Linked DNA regions of Homo sapiens. The protein of the gene in region 2 interacts with the protein of the main gene of each other region in a biochemical or structural test. Each region holds a gene or a part of one and is shown on either strand. Other genes may lie near its edges.

What was found. The genes of interacting proteins can lie anywhere in the genome.
Region 1: the proteins of EYA2 (region 2) and SIX1 form a complex in vitro, tested with the Homo sapiens proteins (2 studies listed by IntAct, with this or other methods).

The regions. Positions count from the first base shown.
Region 1 is NC_000014.9:60,645,615-60,654,231, reverse strand, and holds the start of SIX1 (homeobox protein SIX1), read left to right. Parts: upstream 1-4,754; 5' UTR 4,755-5,042; coding exon 5,043-5,602; intron 5,603-7,654; coding exon 7,655-7,949; 3' UTR 7,950-8,617. UniProt on the Homo sapiens protein: Transcription factor that is involved in the regulation of cell proliferation, apoptosis and embryonic development. Plays an important role in the development of several organs, including kidney, muscle and inner ear.
Region 2 is NC_000020.11:47,184,044-47,189,773, reverse strand, and holds the end of EYA2 (protein phosphatase EYA2), read right to left. Parts: intron 1,722-5,730; coding exon 1,641-1,721; 3' UTR 930-1,640; downstream 1-929. UniProt on the Homo sapiens protein: Functions both as protein phosphatase and as transcriptional coactivator for SIX1, and probably also for SIX2, SIX4 and SIX5.

The sequences.
Region 1 (8,617 bases), on a different chromosome or scaffold from region 2:
CTTAAGAATTGTTTCTTGTGACACCTTGGCTCCACTTTCCAGAGAGGTAGTTGGCATCTGATGTTGAGTAGGGTCTTCTAGCTCAAACCTGGCGATTGGTCAGAGCTTTCTCAGAGGGCAATTTGTTAACCCTTTTCTCCCCTAGGTGGCCAATACACCTTTGCCCGCCCTCCGTGCAGGCTACACCATCTATTGCCCGCCCTCCACTCCCTGTGAAAGGTTCTCGCCAAGTAAGGCCTACTACACCGCCCAGACTTGAGGGTCTACTTTCAAGAGAACTTACCTGCGCTGCCTCAGTGGGTGACATAAGCACACTCTGTGAAACCTCACAGCGCCCAGTCCCGGAGAGAAAAAAACGAGCGCCCAGAGCCGAGGGGAAGGGAGAGGGAGGGAAGGAGGAAGAAAGAGGAGGATGAGAAGAGGAAGAGGAAAAACAATGAGAAAGAAGAGAGAGAGATAAGGAGAGAGAATGAGAAACAGGTTCACATACAGACAGAATGAACGAGCGTCCTCTTTCAGATGGAGAAAAGAGTTAGAGACACACTCTGGGAAAGACCTGCCACGGGGACACACGTAGAGGGAGAGAGAGAATAACTCTTCCAAAGACACACACCCCAGCTCTGTTCCCCTCCAGTCTGAGCTCCCTCCCAGTGCTTGACCCTCAGTCGGTCCATCAGTCTGTGTGTGTTTCTCTCTTTCTCCCTTCCCTGACCTCGAGACAATACGGAGATGGTATTTTCGGGAGCCGCGCGGGGCGGCAGGGTTTTCAGCGGCGAGCCAGGCTCACAGCTGGCTCTGTTTGTCCAGGTGTGGGCGGTGGAGGTGGTGGGGGGCGTCAGTCGCCCTGAATCTTGGGCCAGCGCAGCGTTTTCGCACCAAAGAAGTAGGAGGCTCTGCTCTCGAGCTTCCCGCTTCCAGGAGAAAACTTCCTCCCTCCATACATACATAAATACACTTGGGGAAGAGACAAATCTTCATTGTTCAGAAATAAGCTGAGGAGGCCCGCCTGCTCCCCTCAGCCAGGCAGAGCGAGGCAGGGAGGGAGGCGGGGGCCGCGCGGATCCGGTGTCACGTTGCAGATTCCCACTAAAGATAACGAAACGTGATCTATTTTTCAGAACAGCAAGTGGATGGGAAAGAACCTTGACAACACAAAACTCATTTACTAATGGACTGGTTTTGGGTTTCTCTTCTCTGAGTCCGCAAATCTCTCTGCCTGAGCCCCAGGCCTATTCAGACCTCGCGGGGAGCGGCGTCCCCCAGGAGCAGGTGGGCTGCTGCTCCGGCGCCACGCCGGCCATCGGAGCCGGAGTTCCCAAGGGTCGAGGGCACCCGGAGTTTCCGACTAAGCAGAGGAAAAAGAATTTTGGCACTTCAGCCGGATTTGGGGAGTCTCCGCACTGCCCCAGAGCGATGACACGAATTTATTGAAGAAACACCTCTCTATGCCCTCCCTTTCCAAATATTTGTAGGTAGAGTAGAATCCTCACCGTCGTTCTGGATGGTGAAAGAATTCCAAGAAAGCGGCCCGGGAGCCCCTAACTATCTTGCTACAAGCCAGAAGGGAAACAAGTGGGTCCCAGCTAGGGGTGTTTGCATCAAGGCCTGTCAACCCAGCCGAGAAACCCTAGCAACAGCTAATGCTGTCCCACTGAATGCTTTTTCATCGACTAAAGCGCACGCGGCCGTTACCTGCACAGAGGAGGCACTGGAGAGCCGAAACCTGGCATCGGGCGCTCCTTGCCAGCGGTGTTCCCTCCCGAGCCGCGCTGCAGCGAGGGCAGCAGCCGGCTGGCTAGAGTTGCTCATTTCCTTTAAATCTCCAACGCATCTCTGCTTTTCGTGCGATTTGCATTGACAGCAAAGGTTTTATGTTACGAGAACAACTCAAACCTTTCTGTGTGCGATTTAAAATGGATCATTTAGTTTAGGTGGTTTGTAAATTCATGTCATTTTACCTCTTTCAGCGGTTTTCAGTGAAAGGTTCCATTTTGGGAAACCTTATATATCCGAGCCAATAATTAACATTTATAACAATTGGTTCCCCTAACCGAGGGATCGAAATAGCAGGTAGACTCCTTGGTATAAAGCGCATAGCACTTTCCCTTTCCAGTTACGCGATCTATTGGATTAAGCGGGAGGAAAAATGTTGGCCGGCCCAGTCACGGCCTCCGAGGAAGAGCACCTCTTTTCTGCCCGGGTTCCCGCAATCACACCTTCTACACGTCGTCTTCCCAGATGACGGCAATGTAGTACGTCCTGGTTCCTTTTGAAGACAGATAAAAAGAAATGGGCAGGTAGGTCTGGAGGAAGCCGGGAAAAAAAGGTGGTCCTATTTGTGTCTAATTGCCATCTCTGCTGTCATCCTCTGTAAATTTATACCTGCCCTTATTTGTGCAGGCTATGCCTCATTTCCTTATACAAAATTGTTAATTACAAAGCACACCCCATACTCAACATACTGTTTGTCTTTTAAGAGACGTGGTTGTGCTTAAAGACCCTCCCCCCATTGTAATTGTGCGCACTTGCTCCAGACTTTAGGGTATTAACTGATTTTTAGAGCCGGGTTTAAGCCTCCGTTCCGGTCCTCACACAGCTGCCATGTCAATAAGGACTGTTTCAAGCAGAGGCATTCCTTCTGGGAGGGCACTGCAGCTCCTTAAGACTTCATGTGAAACATCATAAGCACTAAAATAAGACAGTGAGGGGAAATTACCAGACATGGCTCTGGGTTTAGCAGTGCCAGGCTTCCAGTTTAGAAAGTCATTGGGCATACTATATGGCAGAGGCTCTTTTGAAAGCATGCACACCTATTAAATGCATTTTTTTAAAAAAAAAGCCTAAGGTAATGAAATATCAGCATCTGCTTCCAAGATCTAATTGCATGGAATAAGCAAGAGTTTCAAGGATGCAGAAAACATTATGTTCAGCAGAGAAGCAGCTTCCTGTCTACTTGGAATCTCCCATGTGGCAGCCCTGAGGTGGGAACCCTTTATGAGTTTAGAATGTATGTTGCAGGGTGCACTGTACTGGGTGCATCATTTTAAAACCATATTAATAATAAAAGAGGAAACCAAGACATGCTTCTCCTTCTCCCACTTGCATCTCAATATGCAAAAGGTTCTGTAGTGCTGGGCTCTTTGGCTAAAGGAATCAAAACATATTTGAAGAAGACAAGCCAGTTTAAGGAGCCTACAGTTTGTTCTTCACCACTCACTAAGAGGGCACATTGAAATCAAAAGCATTTTTGAAGTGTACTTAGAATTCTGTTTTGAACTTATCTAATCAGAGATAAGTATAGTCATAAAGTCACTCTCCTTCCACCATTTGGCTTCCCTTATCTCCACGCATTGTTCTTATCTCCTGCTAGTCTCAGCTACTGACAATAGATTATCTTTGTTTAGAGAGGCTAATTGTTTTCAAAATCCTTTTAATTATTGCTTTGGAACTAGGTGTGCAAATGAGGCTTAAGATAATTACAACTTCACTTGTTTGTGCAGTTTTACTAAGCATTCTCCACACATAAACAAAACAGCAGATGATGGGACTTAAATTGCAGTGCATCTCTCATTCCCTGGCAGCAAAATAGGCCAGCATTGCAACACACACACACACACACATACACACACACACACACACACACACACCTCTTTATTTAATCTTCTTGGAGCCGCTGTCGTTCTCGCTTTGAGGGCAGTGTCCCTCTCAGAGCAGGGTAAGGATTATATTACAACCGGACGGTTATTGGAGCCGGGCACAGTTTTATTTAATTTACACCACATCCAGCGCCTTTCGTACGAGGTTCCCAAAGCATTTTTGCTAATAGCAAGTAAAGCCTCTCGGCATTCCTCAGTAGCAGAGGTGGCACTGCAAAACACAACCGCACAGATGGGGAAATTGAGTCCAGAAGCTTCAGGAACCTGCTGGTTTCAATCGCAGAACATTAAGATACCAAATCACAAATGAACGCTCGGAGTCTCTAGGTGCTCAGCAAGTATGCTCTAAACAGCTCTCTGCCTGGTCTCAAATCATGGAGGTCTTTTGTGAACGAGGGAAACGCTGTCCGACTGGGAGTACTTGTGCCCTTTGGAGGGTGGTGTGCAGCAGTGGGGGGAGGACAGTGGTAGTTGGTGGGGGGAGGGAGGAGGAAATAGGGTTGGACTCCTCGAGCTGAAGCCAACCCGAAGCCACTCTTCCAGAGGCTGCATGCGCGGACCCTGGTCTGCTCTTGAATTATTTATCGCGTTCCATAAGCTATTCATCAATCCATTATTTATTCATTCCAACATTAAAGTAATTAAATATGAGCTCACCGGGAGAGGGCAAGTCTGCAAGGGATGAGGACAAGAGTACGGAGGGAGAGGGGAGGAATTAAGGTTTGGAGTCATTGATTTGTGCGGAGTTGTGCGCGACTCCCCTTAGGTGATACTGGCGACGGGTCCCGCGTTGCAGGGTCCTGACGCGCTCACCCACTCCCTACCTCCCCACACCTCCGCAGCGCAGCTCCCTCAGACCCCAACTGGCTTCCCACCTTTCCTCTTCCTTCTCCTCCCACCACTCCCTACCCGCGCAGCCCCGGCAACACCCCCAACCCCCAGCTCCGCAGCCTCGCCCTCCCCGCTCTGGGCGGTGCGGCCTCTCTGCCCAGCCGGGCGGCGCGCTGGCTGGCCAGCCCCGGATAGGCGCCGCCGGCAGCCAATCAGCGTGCCGGGGACGCTGCGCGCTTTAAGGCCGCTGCGGGGAGAACAGAAACCAAGTTCCCCGGCAACTAGCAGCATCCACCGGGCGGGAGGTCGGAGGCAGCAAGGCCTTAAAGGCTACTGAGTGCGCCGGCCGTTCCGTGTCCAGAACCTCCCCTACTCCTCCGCCTTCTCTTCCTTGGCCGCCCACCGCCAAGTTCCGACTCCGGTTTTCGCCTTTGCAAAGCCTAAGGAGGAGGTTAGGAACAGCCGCGCCCCCCTCCCTGCGGCCGCCGCCCCCTGCCTCTCGGCTCTGCTCCCTGCCGCGTGCGCCTGGGCCGTGCGCCCCGGCAGGCCCCAGCCATGTCGATGCTGCCGTCGTTTGGCTTTACGCAGGAGCAAGTGGCGTGCGTGTGCGAGGTTCTGCAGCAAGGCGGAAACCTGGAGCGCCTGGGCAGGTTCCTGTGGTCACTGCCCGCCTGCGACCACCTGCACAAGAACGAGAGCGTACTCAAGGCCAAGGCGGTGGTCGCCTTCCACCGCGGCAACTTCCGTGAGCTCTACAAGATCCTGGAGAGCCACCAGTTCTCGCCTCACAACCACCCCAAACTGCAGCAACTGTGGCTGAAGGCGCATTACGTGGAGGCCGAGAAGCTGCGCGGCCGACCCCTGGGCGCCGTGGGCAAATATCGGGTGCGCCGAAAATTTCCACTGCCGCGCACCATCTGGGACGGCGAGGAGACCAGCTACTGCTTCAAGGAGAAGTCGAGGGGTGTCCTGCGGGAGTGGTACGCGCACAATCCCTACCCATCGCCGCGTGAGAAGCGGGAGCTGGCCGAGGCCACCGGCCTCACCACCACCCAGGTCAGCAACTGGTTTAAGAACCGGAGGCAAAGAGACCGGGCCGCGGAGGCCAAGGAAAGGTACGCGGCGTGCTTCCCGCGACTCGGGCGACCCTAGGAAGCCGTCCTTTCTCCTCCGCCCCCTCCCGCCCCCGCAGGCACCAGCCACCAAGTCCTCCCCGCCGGCCGGAGCCCGTCCACGGGGCGGCGCGCAGGCCCTCCGCGGCGCTGCAGCGAAAGTTCATGAACTCTGAGGTTCCTTGCTAAGGATGGGGCCTCATTTGCTTTGAGCACCCGCGCGTGGGTTTCTCTGGGATGTGAGTGTCGGGAAATATTGGCGCTAGATTTGGTCTTTATGCCTCCCTGGCTGGCCGCGGCTATGAGTGGTGGGTGGAGAGTGAGTTTCTAAATCAACGGGCAGTGAAATGTTGATTGGTGTCGCAAGGAAAGGGGTTTGGTGGGAGCTGAGGTTCGCGAACCTCTCTCCTCTTGCTCCCCAGAGGGGTGAAGCTGGCCTGAGACATTGGCTCTGCCCCCACTCCCGCCTGGTTCTCCACAGCTCTCTCTTGATAGTCTTTTGGTTTAGAGGTAGCCTGCTTCATTTCTCACTAGCTGGACAAATGGAGGAGACTTTTAAAGATACAACAAAAAGAGAGCTTTGGGGAGAGTTGGCGCTGCATTTACTCCCCGGCGCCCCAAATTAAGAAAGGGTTGATCCTCGCCGTGCTCGCTCGCGCGTGGCCCGGCACTGCAGCCCGTCGGTCTGGCTGACCGCGCCGCATGCCCAGACGAGGAAAGGGTCTCCAGTCGCAGCCCTCTCTCGCACTGGAGCTCACAAGGCAATATTTTAAAAATTGGTCTCTACTTTCCCCCACCTCGGGGCAACACCTTCGGCCACCTGGGCAGGCTCCTTCTGTTCTCTATAGCGTTTCGGACAGAGATTCAGAAGGACGGTGGGGAGGTGGCTGTGGCGGGGAGAGCGCTCCGCGAAGCCAAAGAGTTTGGGGGAAAACCTGAGCGCAGGGGCCGGTTAGGTTTTCCTTTGTTCGCTTCCAAGACTAGGGGCCGAAGATCTTGCTCCCTTTCTTGTCTTGGTGGAAAACCAGAGCCAGGATAAATTCTGCTGAAATGGGCTTGTCGGGAGACAGAGACTGTGAGGATAAGGGGAAAGAAAGGAGACAGACAGGCGCTAGGAGTCGGGAGGACTGACGAGCACTCGGAAGGCGGAAGCGGCGAGGGAAGCGAAATCCTGAAGTTAACCGGTACCGAGTGCCCGGACTGACGCCCCAGCGCGCCGCGCCCGCTGGCAGCCTGTGCGGGGCGGCGAAGTTTCCCCTGCCCAGAAAGGATGGGTTGGGGTGGGTGTTGGTAGGAAGTTTGAGAGGGGGACACGAGGGGCTGAAGAGTTAGCAAGTAACACAGGAACAGGGATTGTATGGTTGCAGTTAGCCTTTAGTTACAAAACGGCCGTCCTATAAGCCAGGCCCGAGGGCCGACTCCAGATGAAATCAGAGACTGGCTGCGCTCCCTGTGTTTACTCAGGTCACTGGGCCGCGCTGGGCACCACTTCCCATGACCTGTTCTGTGTCTGCAAAACCACCAACTCTGGGCTGGGGCAGGAAAACGGGATGTTTAATTGTCTCCTCATATGCGAACAAGGCAATGGACTTGATTCACCCCAAACATTTGTGCATTGGACTCTGTCCTCTATCATTTCTTTATCACCAATATCTATTTATTGAAAGATTTTCAGTTACATTTAAATATGTTGCTAGTTTATATGTATTTAAATGTAACTGCTTGAACAAAATTTAAAACATATATTTTGTATGTTTCAAATAAATCCTGCTAATCTATCACTTTCTGAAATCTGGAAGAGAAAAGGACCTGGCTCCTAACAGGAGGCTCTGTCCGTAGCTCTCCATTTCTCCAGGTTCCTCTGACTCCTCACCTCCCCCATTACCCTTGGGGATGGGTGGAAGGGTAGAGCTCCTCCATTTGGGTTGGTGACAGATTGCACAATGGCCCTTTCCTCCTTCCAGCTCCCCTCCCTCCATCTCACACTTTTTTTTTAACCTACTTTTTTTTTTTTTTTTTTTTTTTAACCATATGGTGTTGTCCTCTATTTCTTAGGGAGAACACCGAAAACAATAACTCCTCCTCCAACAAGCAGAACCAACTCTCTCCTCTGGAAGGGGGCAAGCCGCTCATGTCCAGCTCAGAAGAGGAATTCTCACCTCCCCAAAGTCCAGACCAGAACTCGGTCCTTCTGCTGCAGGGCAATATGGGCCACGCCAGGAGCTCAAACTATTCTCTCCCGGGCTTAACAGCCTCGCAGCCCAGTCACGGCCTGCAGACCCACCAGCATCAGCTCCAAGACTCTCTGCTCGGCCCCCTCACCTCCAGTCTGGTGGACTTGGGGTCCTAAGTGGGGAGGGACTGGGGCCTCGAAGGGATTCCTGGAGCAGCAACCACTGCAGCGACTAGGGACACTTGTAAATAGAAATCAGGAACATTTTTGCAGCTTGTTTCTGGAGTTGTTTGCGCATAAAGGAATGGTGGACTTTCACAAATATCTTTTTAAAAATCAAAACCAACAGCGATCTCAAGCTTAATCTCCTCTTCTCTCCAACTCTTTCCACTTTTGCATTTTCCTTCCCAATGCAGAGATCAGGGAAAAAAAAAAAAAAAAACCCAAACAAACAAAAGCACCCAGGCACCCAGTCTGAGTTCTGGGCAACTGATACGCCTGTTTCAGCAGCCTTTCTTTTTTTTCAATGAATGGGAATTGCAAATCAACTGGATTTTCATTATTTCCTTTTAATTTATATATGGAGAAATGTGAAGAGGGAAAGGAAATGGAAAGAGAAAGAGAAAGGGAGATAAAAATAGTGAAAATAAGAGCCTCCAGGCTCAGAAGAACTGATTACATTCTTAAGGTGAACAGGAAAAATACAATCTATAACTTTCTTTGATGAGGAAAAATTAAGTTTACATTTTTCATATTTAGTGTTAAACAATTTAATGTAGATTAAAATAAAAGACCAGTATTAGGAGGAAAAAACAAGTGCCTAAATGTCTTAATGCTCTCTATGT
Region 2 (5,730 bases):
ACCCACATGCCTTGGCCTCCTAAAGTGTTGGGATTACAGGCATACACCACCATGCCTGGCCGGTGACAGTTTTCTAATCATCAGAGATTCTAGCTCTGAGACTCCAGTGGCAGAGATCTCCATCTCCCATGACATGGGTCAGCTGACTGATAATCCACGATTTTACCAGCATTAATAAGGAAGGAGCCTATATTCCTGCTTAGCATCCAATCAGATAGACCCAGGTCCTGCCTGGTCCACTATGGGTAGTGGCAGTGCTCCAGATGTCTTCAGAACTTCTCCAGATTTCCCTCCTTGCCCCTTAAACTGGATCCTTCACTCATGTCCCATCCACTGGGAAATGAAGTCCTACCATTAGAACGGAAGTCAGTTGCATTTTCCAGCCCGACCCTCAATTCCCCCAATTCTTTGAATAACAGCTCACTGATTTTCTTTCCCTTGGAGGATCAGCTTGTTCAACTTGCTGTTCGTGACAGGATCCAACCCTAAATCCAGCTCCGTGAGTTGCCTAAGCCTCAGATTTGGCCAACGAGTTACAGTCCTGAGGCTTTCGCTGCACCACGGTGAAGAATGTGGTCTCTTTCTGTCTGTGTGGTTTTGCTGAAGGACTCGTAGAGCCGTCTTTGCCACACAGGGAACAGCCTGCCTGAGAATTACGGCCACATGAGAGAAATTCATTTGACCACCCGGATCCAGACAGATACCACCTAAAGTTCCTGGAGACACTTGTCCCTTTGTCCTTCTTCCCCTCCCTTTCTGCCTCCCTCCTTTTCTCCCTCTTCTCCTTCCTCCCTCCCCCCACCCCATTTTTCTTGGCTTAAGCCAGTGTGAGTTGGATTCTATTCTTCTGCAACTGATAAAGTCTTTAAAAAGGACAACACATTTGGAAGCCTCAAGAGTGGTAATAAAGTAACCACATCCTACCCCACTTCAAAATGTAAACGTGGTTTTATTTAATGCCTTTTATCCATCACAAAGCACCCATTCCTTCCCAGCATCCCCCTCTTCCTAGAAAACAAGATGTAGCGTAAGGCACGTGCACTGTCCACATGACGTCAAGTAGGTCTTTAAAAACAAAAATAAGCAATAGTCTTTTCAACAGCTTGAACTGCCTTCCTCTCTAATGTTCAAAGAATGATTGTCCCCACAAAGCACAACTTGGAGAATAGAGTGCTTACATTAGAACTGTGAACCACCCCACATACCAGTTCAAAAAACCAAACCAAACCAACGACTAAGAAACCCAGCCACACAGGTACAAGAGCATAATTCCGGAGTAATGAGACTAGTCCATAAATTAAAAAGAAGACAAGACAAACCCATCCCCTCCTCATCACCAGGCACCCCCCAAATCAGCAATTCCTTGCTTTTGTTCTGTGAGTCTTACAGAAGAGTCTAGACTCCGAGCCAGCCCTTTTCCCCAAAGTCAAATACTCCGAAGCCAATGTTGGGTACTTTCCTTCTCAGAACCCCCATTTGGACTGATGGACGGCTTCTGAGATGGTCACTGGACACGTCGTCTCGGCTGTGGGGCCCCTTCCTGGTGTCCAACATCTGGGTCTCTGGAGTTCTCGGTGGGGAGGTGGGGAAGGCGAGGGGGTCTGAGGGTGAGATGGCAGGTGGAGATGCTGCTGATCCTGCTATAAATACTCCAGCTCCAGGGCGTGCCTCAGTGCCTCCAGGTCTGCGTGGCAGGATATCCGCCAGAAAGGCATGTTGTGCTGAAACACAGAACACCAGCCACAAGGTTATGGCCCCGCCCCTGCCCCCGGGTTCCACGCCTGTGGTTAGAGGGCATGTGAGAAGTCAACCCAGTTAAGTCTAGCACGTGGGGACTTCCCAAACTATGGGGCACTTGATGTTGCTGGCAGACCCACATCTGGCCAGTACCCACCAGTATGGCCAACCATTTCTATTCAGAGCCTGCTCTGACGGGCTTATCCAGCACTGCCCAGCGTGTTCGCTGTTTGACCCTCTCGCCTCTGTTGGTACCAGCGTGGTCTTAGGCGGTGCACTGACATGGTGTTAAATTGCACAATGGGAAAGCGATTCCTTTTTAAAAATTTGTTCTTGCCTGGGCACTGTGGCCCACGTTTGTAATCCCAGCACTTTGGGAGGCTGAGGCGGGAGGATTGCTTGAGGCCGGGAATTGGAGGCTGCAGTGCTCTGAATCCTGTTACTTCAAGAAGAAAGTCACAGCTCGGTGCTGGAACCCCTCCCCAGCATTGACAGTCTCCACTGTGAACAAACAGAGCTGGTCTTGGAGAGTCTTCAGCAGGCCACTGTAGCTAGCCAGGTCAGATGACACTAATCTGTTTTCTTTATAGCTTTCGTTTTTATCTTTTCCTTTTCTTTGCAGCAGGTGGTACCTGCTTCAAGTTATTGTCATGATGTGGAGTTTTTTTTTTCTTTCTTTCTTTCTTTTGAGACAGGCTAGAGTGCAGTGACATGATCTCTGCTCACTGCAGCCTCAACCTCCCAGGCTCAAGCGATCCTCCTACCTTAGCCTCCCGGGTAGCTGGGACAACAGATGCATGCCACCACATCTGGCTAATTTTTGTATTTTTTGTAGAGATAGGGTTTCACCATGGTGACCAGGCTGGTCTCAAACTACTGGGCTCAAGCGATCCACCCACCTCAGCCTCCCAAAGTGTTGGGATTACAGGCATGAGCCATTGTGCCCAGCTGAATTTCGTTTCATTAATTTTTTTTTTTAATTTTAGAGATGGAGTCTCAGTTTGTTGTCCATGCTGGAATGCAGATCATGGCTCACTGCAGCCTTGATCTCTTGGGCTCAACTGATTTTCCTGACTCAGCCTCCTGAGTAGCTAGGGACATATCTAGGTAAATAGGAAAAAGGAAGGATGCAGGACAAATTGTATATATATGTGCATGTATATGGAAGAAAGAATGCTGGCGTTTCTCAGTAGTTTAAAAGATAATAAATAAGACTACCTTAGGAAGAATGTAAAGAAATCATTAAGGCAGGTGTAAATAAAATGTCATGGGAGCCAGCCAGAGGAAGCAGCCTCTTTTTTGGTAGAAGTGAATGGGATGGGGGTGTCTCAGGGGACAAGAAGCGCATGAGACCCAGACCTTGAAGAACGAATGAGGAGGCCGGGCGTGGTGGCTCACGCCTGTAATCCTAGGACTTTGGGAGGCCAAGGCGGGTGGACTACCTGAAATCAGGAATTTGAGACCAGCCTGGCCAACATGGTGAAACCCCATCTCTACTAAAATACAAGAATCAGCTGGGCGTGGTGGTGGCCACCTGTAATCCCAGCTACTTGGGAGGCTGGGGCAGGAGAATCACTTGAACACAGGAGGCAGAGGATGCAGTGAGTTGAGATCATGCCACTGCACTCCAACCTGGGCAACAAGAGTGAAACTTCATCTCAAAAAAAAAAAAAAAAAAAAAAAAAAAAGAATAAGTGCTTCATAGTTAGCAGGTCACTGAAGGGAAGGGCATCCCAGATTGAGAATCCCTCAGTGAGCAAAGGAAGATCTATAAAGATGCCAGGGGCAGACCCCAGTGGGGCCTTCTGTACAGGTCACAAACACTTATGGGGCTTTCATTGGAGGCTCAGATAAACCCACAGATAAGAAATAAACAAGATAAGTTCATCTCCTGGTAAGTGCTAGGAAGGAAACAGAATGAGATAGGGTAGAAAGCAGCTTTGTGTGTCTACTTTTGAGAGCTGGGTCAGGAAAGGCCTCTCCAGGGAGTGTCATTTAAGCAGGCCCTGGCAAAGATGTGGGGGAACGTGGGGGCAGGTAGAAGACACAGCAAGTGCAAAGGCCCCAGGAAGGTTGAGCTTGGAATGCAATGCTCATTGCTGCACCGCATGGCTCTTGACACATAGTAGGTGCTCAAGAAATATTCGTAGAAGGAATGAAAAGAGGAAGAGAGAGAGGGAAAAAAAGAAGGTAAGTTTCTCAAGCAAAGTCCTCTGAATGTATCCTTTTCTCTTTGTTCTGTAGTTTCTAAACAATTCTCAGCTCAAGGGAAGCAGAAAACCATCTCCTATGGGAACAGCTCTCATCTCTTCAACGCCTTCTCACTGCCCTAGCATTCCCACCCTGCCCTCATCCCGGCCAAGCCCTCCTTTCTTTGCAAAGATAGATTCTGGTTGCCACCTGGCCAATCCTGCCCTCTTTAAAGAGTGTAATTTGGCTGAGTGTGGTGGCTCACACCTCTAATCCCAGTACTTTGGGAGGCTGAGGTGGTCGGATCACCTGAGGTCAGGAGTTCGAGACCAGCCTGGCCAACATGGCAAAACCCCGTCTCTATTAAAATTACAAAAAATTAGCCACATGTGGTGGCTCATGCCTGTAATCCCAGCTACTCAGGAGGCTGAGGCACAAGAATCGCTTGAACCTGGGAGGTGGAGGTTGCAGTGAGCCGAGATCATGCTACTGCACTCCAGCCTGGGCGACACAGTGAGATTCTGTCTCAAAAAAAAAAAAAAAAAAAAAAAAAAAAAAAAAAAAAAAAAAGAGTGTGATTCATTTTTCTGGGAGAGAATGAGCAAAGGTGGAAGAAAGAGAATGTTCTAGCCGCCTTTACCCCAGGCTTAAAGGTTCCAGAGTGCCAGTGGATTCATCACTCGTGAAGAGGTGGAGACAAATCACCCACTAAAATGGAGATATTAACAACACTGTCAGCGGAAACAGTCAAGGCCCCTGGTCCTGCGGCCATATTTTACACCGCTCAGATTTCCGGTGGCCTGGGCTAATGACTTCCATTTGTCAGGCTGAGAGAGCTGCTGGTGGACACTGTTTCTCACTAACGTTCTGAGGCTTCTGCCTCAGACACTGGGACTTTTATGGGAGTTCTGTGTGTGGTGGGTGTGTACCTAGTCTTCTTTGGCTGACTCTACTCTTGCCTGACTAGCTCAGGGGTGAAAACCAACCGTGTTTGAAACTCGTAAGTCCGTCTCCTCCCTGCCAGGCGTTTGGAGCATGACACAGGTAGGTTTGCATGTGCTAGATGTGTGACCCTAGGCAAATTAATTAACCTTTCTGAGTCTCAAATTCTGTCATCTATAAAATGGGGTGTGGCCGGGCACATGCCTCTAATCCCAGCTTTCTGGGAGGCCAAGGTGGGCAGATTGTTTGAGTTTACGAGTTTGAGGCCAGCCCAGGCAACATGGCAAAACCCCATCTCTATAAAAAAAAAAATACAAAAAATTAACCAGGTATGGTGGTGCCTGTCCATAGCTCCAGCTACTTAGAGGTGGAAGTGGGAAGATCGCTTGAGTCCAGTAGGTAGAGGCTGCAGTAAGCTGAGATTGTGCCACTGCACTCCAGCCTAGGTGCCAGAGTGAGACCCTATCTCTAAAAAAAAAAAAAAAAAAAAAGGGATGCAATGATACCCACTTTGTAGGAGTTTTTGGAGGATTGAGTACAATGATGATGTTAGCAATAAAGTTACGGTGGTGAAGGGCATGGGGTTAGGTCAGCAACTCAAGATGCCAGCCACAGCCTGGCCACACACCAGTGCGACTGACCCTGGCAGCTGCCCCTCAATATCACTTCTCCCCTTCTCTCTCAGAAGCAGCTCCCATTTCTTAGCGGGGCTCATGGCGGCGGATAATAGAGACTACATCTCCCAGGAAAGGGGAGGAGCCTTCCAGGTGGAGGGAACAGTGCCTGCAAAGCCTTCCAAGCTCCTCTCTCCCGGGGCCCTCTCCCAGGACCCTAGGGCTTCCCTCTTCTTCTGGGTTTCAT